3 separate regions of the Homo sapiens genome follow, and regions 2 and 3 are each linked to region 1. Evidence: fine-mapped QTL for protein levels in blood plasma. A gene starts in region 1. Each other region holds a variant in brackets. All regions are shown on one strand. Distances are from middle to middle.

What was found. PIP is the chance, under the fine-mapping model, that this variant and not a neighbour inherited with it causes the effect. The UK Biobank Pharma Proteomics Project read protein levels with antibody pairs (Olink). The fine-mapping took linkage between variants from a reference panel, not from the people measured, so its PIPs are less certain.
Region 2: its variant is fine-mapped to the plasma level of the IGSF9 protein (UK Biobank, PIP above 0.99). The variant lies in the coding sequence of IGSF9. If it changes the protein, the assay may bind it differently, which can mimic a change of level.
Region 3: its variant is fine-mapped to the plasma level of the IGSF9 protein (UK Biobank, PIP above 0.99).

What each region holds. Positions count from the first base shown.
Region 1 is chr1:159,944,016-159,946,764 of GRCh38, forward strand. IGSF9 (immunoglobulin superfamily member 9) reads right to left here and starts at 1,598. Exons shown (of 21, transcript NM_001135050.2): 1 at 1,558-1,598. LOC124904438 (a long non-coding RNA gene) reads left to right here. Exons shown (of 3, transcript XR_007066684.1): 2 at 2,137-2,437. RefSeq lists a silencer at 1,584-1,878 and an enhancer at 1,721-2,221.
Region 2 is chr1:159,931,060-159,933,808 of GRCh38, forward strand. IGSF9 (immunoglobulin superfamily member 9) reads right to left here. Exons shown (of 21, transcript NM_001135050.2): 10 at 1,453-1,593; 11 at 753-869; 12 at 394-544; 13 at 79-202. Among named protein-coding and RNA genes, the nearest start is that of TAGLN2, 6.9 kb to the left of the region's middle. The variant G/A (reference allele first, on the strand shown) is at 1,589.
Region 3 is chr1:159,924,434-159,927,133 of GRCh38, forward strand. It overlaps TAGLN2 (transgelin 2), which reads right to left and starts at 1,074. Exons shown (of 5, transcript NM_003564.3): 1 at 1,017-1,074. It overlaps IGSF9 (immunoglobulin superfamily member 9), which reads right to left. Exons shown (of 21, transcript NM_001135050.2): 21 at 2,608-2,700. LOC124904437 (a long non-coding RNA gene) reads left to right here. Exons shown (of 2, transcript XR_007066683.1): 2 at 46-2,507. RefSeq lists enhancers at 1-703, 176-752 and a silencer at 35-444. The variant A/G (reference allele first, on the strand shown) is at 2,071.

The DNA.
Region 1 (2,749 bases):
GCCTAGGCTGCTCTCGCTTCTTTCCTTACTCTTGATGCTCACAAGGTATAGCAGCAAGATGGAACCAGTGCTGTCGCCTTCACCCCTCTGTGACAAATAAGGGCCCTGAGGATATCTGCTCAGGGGCAGAGAGCCAGTCAAGGGCAAATCCAGGGCGCTTAAGCCTCAGAAAGTGGTCCCCAGGACACCCCGATACAATCCCTTGTCCCATTTCCCCAGCCTCTATGAAAAACTCTGGAAGCTGAGGACCCGAGGCCTTTCTCCATTCAGTCTCCCTACACTGCTTTGGCAGTGAGTGAGTCAGGCACTTGGGAGAGGAGGAGCTGCCTCCCCCACCTGCCAGTATGGGGGATCCAGGCAGCATCCTCCAGGTCTGGACAGGTCCCGGGGCTGGCAGCTGGCGCCACTTCCTCACGATACTGCCAAGCAGCCCTCCCCCTGCCAGGCACCACCACCCAAGGACCTCACCCAAATCCCTCCCACTCACTCCCCTCCAATATCTTCGGGGTGCCAGGGTTTGTCAAGCTCTTTCTTCCCCAACCCCAGAGGCATGGTCCAAAAAAAAGCCTGTGAGTCCCTGAAGTGTACAAAATTAACCCTGGGGCATGGAGGGTAGGAGCTTCTGACAGCCCCACAGATCCTAGGGCAGTCTCAGAGAGCCAGAGGGTCCATGCCAGGGCCTGGCACTGCCAAGTGGACTCTGCTCTGAGTCCTCCAACCCACTCTTGGCCGCAAAGTTCAGGACAGACTATAAAACATCCTCCACAGAGTCTGATCCTTGCCTCTACTTAATGATCCTGTATGTCTAACTTCTGGCAATTCACTAGCAACCAAGCCCCCTGTTTCCCACTGCCTCCAGGCAGCTCTCCCACACTTCCCTGAAAAACCTTTTTCCAAGTATATAGGAACCCCCTAGTTCTCTCCTGGTTGTTTTCCGAGACTCTGAGTAACTAGGCATCCCTAGAATTCCTCCCAGTCTCTTAATATCTTTCCAACTCCCCCGGCCTCCACTATTTCCTCACCCTTCTAGTCTCCCCACACACCACTCCCTCGTCCTCCCATTACTCCCTTCCCAGTTATCGCTACTACGCACAATCCCCCCACAATTCCAGCTTCTCGCACCTGATCTCCAATTGCAGCAGGTCTCCTGCACTATAAAGAACTCCCTTCTGGTCTCCCCACCCCCCAGCCACTTCTCCCCATCCTCTCCTCCCGATAATTCCCCTCCCTGGGATTCTCCTGCATCAGCCCACAATACAATTCTGATACCCCACCCCCAACAATTCCTTTCTCCCTCGCATTCTCTGGTCCCCTGGAACTCCTCCTTTCTCTTAGAACCCACCAAGAACTCCCCCACATTGCCTCCAGAACTCCTGCAGTTCTCCGGGAACTCCCACCCACCCGCCAAGAATTCCACTTCACTCCCCAGAACTCCCCTAGTTCTACTCCTGCAACGAATTCCACTTCTCTCTAGAACTCCCCGCTTTCTCCTGTCCCCCATAACTCCGCACTACCAGCACCACCACTTCTATACCTCCAGTACGCCCCCTCCCTCACCTGCTCCGCACCGCTCGGCTCCACTCTCGCCGCTACACAATAGGGGGCGGACCCGCCTCCCCGCCTCGGATGCCCCGAGCGCCTCCCGTCGCCCTGGAGACCGCCAATCCCCCTCCCGCGGCGGCCAATTGGAGCCGCCAGAGGCACGGCGAGGCGGGCGGGACCCCTGAGCGGCCTGGGAGTTGTAGTTTCAGGAGGGAAGAGCTCGGCTGCACGTGGGCTCAGGTCGCCCCCTCGTGGACCTCTGCACAGCCAAGCGTGGAAAGGCCGGTGGGCCGCTTCCCGCCGCCAGCAAGAGGGGCAGCAGGGTCCGGCTCGCGCTCCAGGGCTGCGGGAGCTGGCCCCTTGCCAGGCTACTGGTACGCCGTCCTTCTTTCGGAACCTACGGGCGACCCTCTCCGCTCCCCGAACGGGCGCGCCACAGAGGCGGCAGCGAGGGTTGAAATCTGAGCCTGGGGGTAGGAGAACCAGGCGGGGAGCATGACTCCCCGCCCTCCTCCCAGGGGATCCACCCAGGTCCCGGGCTCATCCGATCTCCTCCCCCATCCCCATTTCTACCTCCACCCATTGCTTCTCTAGCAGGACTGGAAATACCTGTCTGCATTGGCGAGCTCCCAAATCTTGCCCAGGCGCCTCCCACCGTGTGCAGCTGAGGAAGGCTGTGCTCTGAGCGTGGGGTTGCCAAGTCAGCTCCCAAGGCAGCTCTGGCACCAACGACCCAGAGAAACAGGCCCAGAGGGGAGAAACGACAGATATCCTGACACGGGAGATTGAAAGGGAGGAATGAAATACAAGATCACTTACTGGACCCATGCAGGGTGCCAGACCCTGGACTAGATGCTTTATAACTCTTGTGTAACCTTCACAGAAACCCTGCGAAGTAAGTAGAGCTCCCTTTGACTAATGAGAAAACTGAGGCTCAGGGAGATGAAGTAACTTGGCCCAAGCTTTCCCAACTAGGTTATGGCAGAGCTGGATTGAGACCCAACCCAAACTTCATCAAACCTACTCCCTTGGAGGCTTCGCCCTCAGACACAAAGATATCTTGCATATCTTGCCCCTCAGAGATTCCACCTCCTCAGCCTGGTGATGCTGTAGGGATGCTGGGTCGGCTTAAGCAACATTGCCTGTCCAGGTCCTTCCCATTCAGTTGGCTCCCTTGGAAGCCTTCCATGAAAGCAACGTGCTGATC
Region 2 (2,749 bases), 13 kb before region 1:
AGAAGGCCAGATAGGTTCAAGGAGGAGAGGAAAGGAGGCAAGATTGGCACAGAGAAATGGCAGGAGCAGGTCACTCACAGTGGGGTGTACCAGACACTGAATCTCTGCAGATAACCACCATCAAAGCCAGGCTCCCAGGAGACATTGGCACCCTTGGGCAAAGCCACCACGGACACATTGGTGACAACATGAGGGCTAGTGCCTAGGCAGGGGGGAATGGAGGGATGGTGGTCAGGGCCTGAGGGAGTGTACAGAGTAGCAGGGGCCCCAGGGCCACTGACCTTCACCCATCATCATCCCAGGGGTCCCACACCCATGATCCTCTTTCTGGGCCTCCAAAAACGATTCCCAAGTAGTTTCTCCCAGCCCCTGGCCCTCTCTCCAGCCACTAACCCAGCACGTAGACGTTCGTGGAGGTGGCCACTCGGGCCACAGCATTGCTGGCACTGCATTCCCAGTGCCCGTGGGCCTCCTTGGTCAATGGTCGCAGGATGAGGCTGCTGTTGCTGTCCACCTGGGCCTGGCCTTGCAGCCCCCGGCCCACCTACAGAACCACTGGTGAGCCCTGAGGACACACGCAGCCACCCCTCACCAAAGGCGCCCCTCATCTCTCCAGGCAGCTCCAGTTCCTCCCCACCCTGCCTCTGACAGCCTTCTCCTTCCCACACCCTCCCTCCCACAAAATGGCTGGGGCACGAGAGGCAGGGGTGTAGTGGGCGTGGGTACAGGCAGAGCGGGCTCAGGAGCCTTACCTTGGTCCAAGAGACAACAGGAGGAGGGTCCCCTTGGGCGGAGCAGGGGATGAGCAGCTCCCGCCCTACTTCTTGGAAATATTCTTCCTTGGGCCGCTCTATAAAAGCTGGGGGAGCCTGCAAGCCAGATCTGGCATTGGGAGGGGCCCTCTCTTACATCTAAGGCTGGCTACTCCCTCTCTCTGTGCTCCCTGTCATGCCATGTCTCACCTCACTCTCCCTCACTCCCCCTAGCTAAACACTCACCAAGCCTGTCTCTACCTCATTCTCTCTCCATCTCTCAATTCCTCTCTGGCTCTGTTTCTGTTCCCCAGTGGGTAGGGGCTGGAGGAAAATGGTGGTGTAGTAAGGGCTGGCAGGCTTAGGCAGGACTCTCAGAGATGTACAAACCTCTGCAGAACATTCTTCCTCCCAGAGCCCCAGAGAGGGAGGCAGCACGGTCAAGGTTAGTGAGAGTTGGGGCAAACAGGATATCTTACTTCTGGATGTGTGTGACTGATGTCCCACCTCCCGAGCACCACCTCTGCAGAAACCTCTGGGATGGCATCAGGCAGCTGCTGCCGTGGCCACCATGGGAAACAAACTTGGAAACCCCTCCCCATGTGTCTGCCCCACCCCACCCCCATCAGCCTGGCCTTAGCACCATCTCCAGCCATCTGACCCACTGTCACCACAGGCCCCCGCCCACCCCCGGCCTAACCTTGAGCAGCACGCGGGTCACAGGAGAGGGCCCGGCGGTACCAAGACTGTTGTAGGGGGTGCAGGAGTATTCTCCCAGGGCATCCTCGTTCCCCAGGGCGATGATCAGTGAGCCTTCTGTGCCCTGGGACCAGCCA[G/A]GGAACTGGAAGGAAGAGAAGATGACAGCTAGAGAGAGGAGCTCAGCAGAGACAAGCCCGGGATGGCAGTACAAGAGAGGGGGCAGGATGAGAAACCCACAGCTGTGCAGAAGACTCCAGCAGCTCCATGTCTAGGCCTGACCCCTCTCTGATTTCCAGTGCTTCCTTTCCTTCCTGCAGAGGGACCCCTCCCAATAGTGTGAGGCTGTGACTGCACAACTCCAGGGGGTGCCACTCACAGAAAATACACTGTGAATGGCCACCCCTGTAGTTGGGCCGCGTGGGGCTTCCTGCCTGCTGGGACTTCACCTGGCTCTCTTCCCAGCACTCCACAACTAAGTTCAGAGTCTTCCACCCAAAACCAGCTCCTATTTCTCTATTAAAGGGCCCGCCATCCTTCTTGCTGAAGTCTGCCTCCTCACGTTCCCTCACTCCCCCTGGTGAAATACTCACTAAGCCAGTCATCCTGGGAAGTCCCTTTTGTCAGAGCATGAGCCCATTCATCTTCATGTCCTCTGTAAATCAGACTCCATAACTCTCACCTGGGCCATTTCAGCAGCTTCAGAACCCCTCTTCCTATGTCCAGTATCTCCCGCTACATTCCACTGGGCAAGCTCAACCCCTGATCACAGCTCTGATCCTATCACACCAATGCTCAACAAATTCCAGTGGCTCCAACTGCCTGTAGACTTTTTTCTTAAATATTCAACAAAGATATACTGAGTACTATTGTTGTAGAAGCCCCAGGTACACTATGATGAAAAGATGCAATACTAGGCCTCAAAAATTTATAGTCTCTGCAGACAAAAGATCCCAATTGCCTTGGAATGAGGCAATAGTAACTTGGCATCCAGTTCTTCCTTTTGATGCTAACCTGTCTTTCCAGCTTTCTCTGCACCATTCATGTCCCTGCAGGCACTCCGGCTCCCACCCAATTGGACGATCCATGATTCCATAAACGTACTATACTACTTCCTGCCTCTTGACCCTGGTTTCTGCAAGGGAATGACTGTGTCCTCTTTGAGGCCCATCACCAAAGTCCCAGAATCTGTTGCTGGTCTATCCTCAACCACCCTAAGAGGAAGGCACGAGCTCCATCCCTGGCCTTCCAGACAGTGTTGCTGTCCTCTGCCCAGATGGTGCCCACTTTAAGGATGGATG
Region 3 (2,700 bases), 20 kb before region 1:
CCACACTCCATCCCCACTCTCACCCCGTTTCTCTCTGCCCCACAGATACCAACTGCTCACAGATCTCCCAGGACACCGGCTTCAGGTAGCCCCAGGAGGCACAGGGCGCGGGGGGAGGCGGCAGTCCACCTCCGGTCCTGCAGGTCCGGCCTCCCAGCCGCCGCCCCCCACCCCCACGACCACACCCTGGGCCGTTACAACAGATGAGTCACCCACCGCCCTCCCGCCGCTGGGGTGACGCAGTGGTCTGGGCAGCCCGCCCGTCCGCCCGCGGCCACCACCGGCTTTCCCAGCAGCAGGGGGCACCCGGTGGGGGCAGCGGCGCTCGGGCAGGGTAAAAGCAGCCACCACCACCCCCACAACCTCACACAGGGCACCCCGGGGCGCAGTCAGGGCTGCAGCACCCAGACCCCCGAGGTCAGGGGACCGTCATAGAGATGACTGGAGCTTCACAGAAGGTCACCGTGCGACCCATGCAGAGCCCCCTAGCCCCAGCCCGTGACCTCAAGTCCCCAGAATAGCAAGCTAGCAGGAACAGGAATGAAAAGGGCGGCCTCGGGGACTCAGAGGGCACGCAGTGCTCACACGTGCTCCTGGAACCAGGAAGTGAAGGGTCGCGCGGGAAAGCCCAGGAGCACGAGCTGGCCCAGGGCCGGCGCCACGACCCGGGGTCACTCGGGGCCAGCCAGCTAAAGTCCGACGCCCTTTTTTCCCCTCGCCCCAGTGAGGACTCAGCGATGGAGCCCGCGGGTGGGGCTCAGTCCCTGAGTCCCTGCTCCAGACGGACGCCCTGTCTATGCATGGGCTAACCTCGCCTGACCTCATCGTCCAACAATGTCGGGTCAGGGCTTGGGGACAGGACCTGACAGCACGGGGCGGGGTAAAGTAGTCACCGGACCCTTGCCTGGTACCAGCCCTTGATCCCCGAGCTCGCTGGAGCAAGTTCAAAGCGCTGGCTTCTTGCTTTCTACACAGCACGCACATGTCCCCGACCCCCGTACCCCCGACCTGCTCACCGTTCAAGCGGGCTGGAGAGCGGCGCACTGACTCAAGGCAAGGGCTGCAGCTGCAAGTGGTGCGCCCTGCCCAGCCGGGGATTTTCAGGAGGGTCCCGCCTCAGACGGGGCGGACCCGGGGCGGGGCAAGGGCCAAGAAGGTTTAAAGGCGCCGCAGCGCAGAAGGAGGGAGGACTGCTTGAGACAGAGGGACAGTAGACCAGAGCAAGGGTTAAAGGTTCGGGGAGTCTGAATCTACAAAGGCGGCTGCAGTGGTCTCCACCCGTGAGTACCTCAGCCTCCACCGAGAGCCCGTAGACTTGTGCCCCAGTAGGAAACTTTCTGCCTAGAAAGTTAGCTAAACACTGTGGGCGTGTTTATGTAGGAAGAAGCCTCCTAGTTTAGAGGCTGGCAAGGTAAAAGGAGGCACAGGAAGGCCTTCCCCCGACCCCAACTGACTAGTGTGTGACAGGACTGGGACTTGCAGGCCGGGACAGCACCCCCACGTGATCTTGCTCACCTCTTACTTCAAGCCTGGGCAGGGACTAACAGTGAGGTCACTCTGCCCAGGGCCCTAGGGGTGTTTTCGGTGTTGGGACCCAGGGCTCAGACCTGTCTTCTCCCTGCCTTTCATCTCCTTTTCTATGACCTGGTATCTCTTCCTAAATCCTGGAGGGATCAGAGGGGGAGACCTCAGCGCGAGGAGGCTGGCTGGGGTTCTTTTGTCTCTGAGGGTGGAGGACAGCACAGTTCAGGGGTGGAGAAAGAGCCCCCCATCCTTTCAGGCTTCAGTTGAATAGAGTCCCCCGGGGTGGAGTTCTGCACACATGATAGAGTCCTCCCTTGAACCTGAGATTCCAGGATGTCAATATCCAGTCCTGTCCAACCTTTCTATTATTCTCTGTTCCCTCCCCGAGTCCTACACAGCCCTATATTCCAGTCCCACTGATTGTCAAGCATTCTCACTCTTCTGTGCCTTTACAAAGGCTATTCCTCTGCCTAGGACAGTTTCCCTTCCTTGACTGGCTCCCCACCTGCTCTACCCTTTACCTGCTGTGTGACTGTTGTGCATTCT[A/G]TGCTTGAGTTCCCTGGTCTATAGAACAGAGCTAATAGTACTACCTAATTCATAGAATTGTAGAGAACTAAACAGTCCACCTATAGGGCTTAGAGCAGTGCCTGGCACATAGTGAATACTATTATTACCACCATCTATCTGTGAGGGTCCTGAGGACTCCCCCCCAATATGTGGCATTTGTCCCAGCACACGATATTAGCGTTCACTAAAGGTGGCCTTGAATGCAACATCTTCCTTTGTGCTACAATAACCAACACATAGCTTTATCACGGAACTTATCATACGGTAACTATTTCTTTGTCCGCCTCACTGACTAGAAAGAACTCCTCAAGGGCAAAGGCGTGCTTCCAGAGCTTTGTATTTTCTCAGTATCTACTTCAGTGGCTGGCCTTTAGTAGCTGGCCTCCGTAAGCACTCAATAAATGTTCTTGAATGAATGCTGAATGCACCTCCATTTATTCAAGAAGATTCTCCTCTTCTTTAAGGGTCCAGGGATTTTCCTGGCACTCTCTCAAAGACAGATAACACACAGAAACATCTTTCAAACTTTGTTTATTCACCTGTAAAAAACTTCACACACACACACACACACACAGAGAGAGAGAGAGAGAGAGAGAGAGAGAGAGAGGC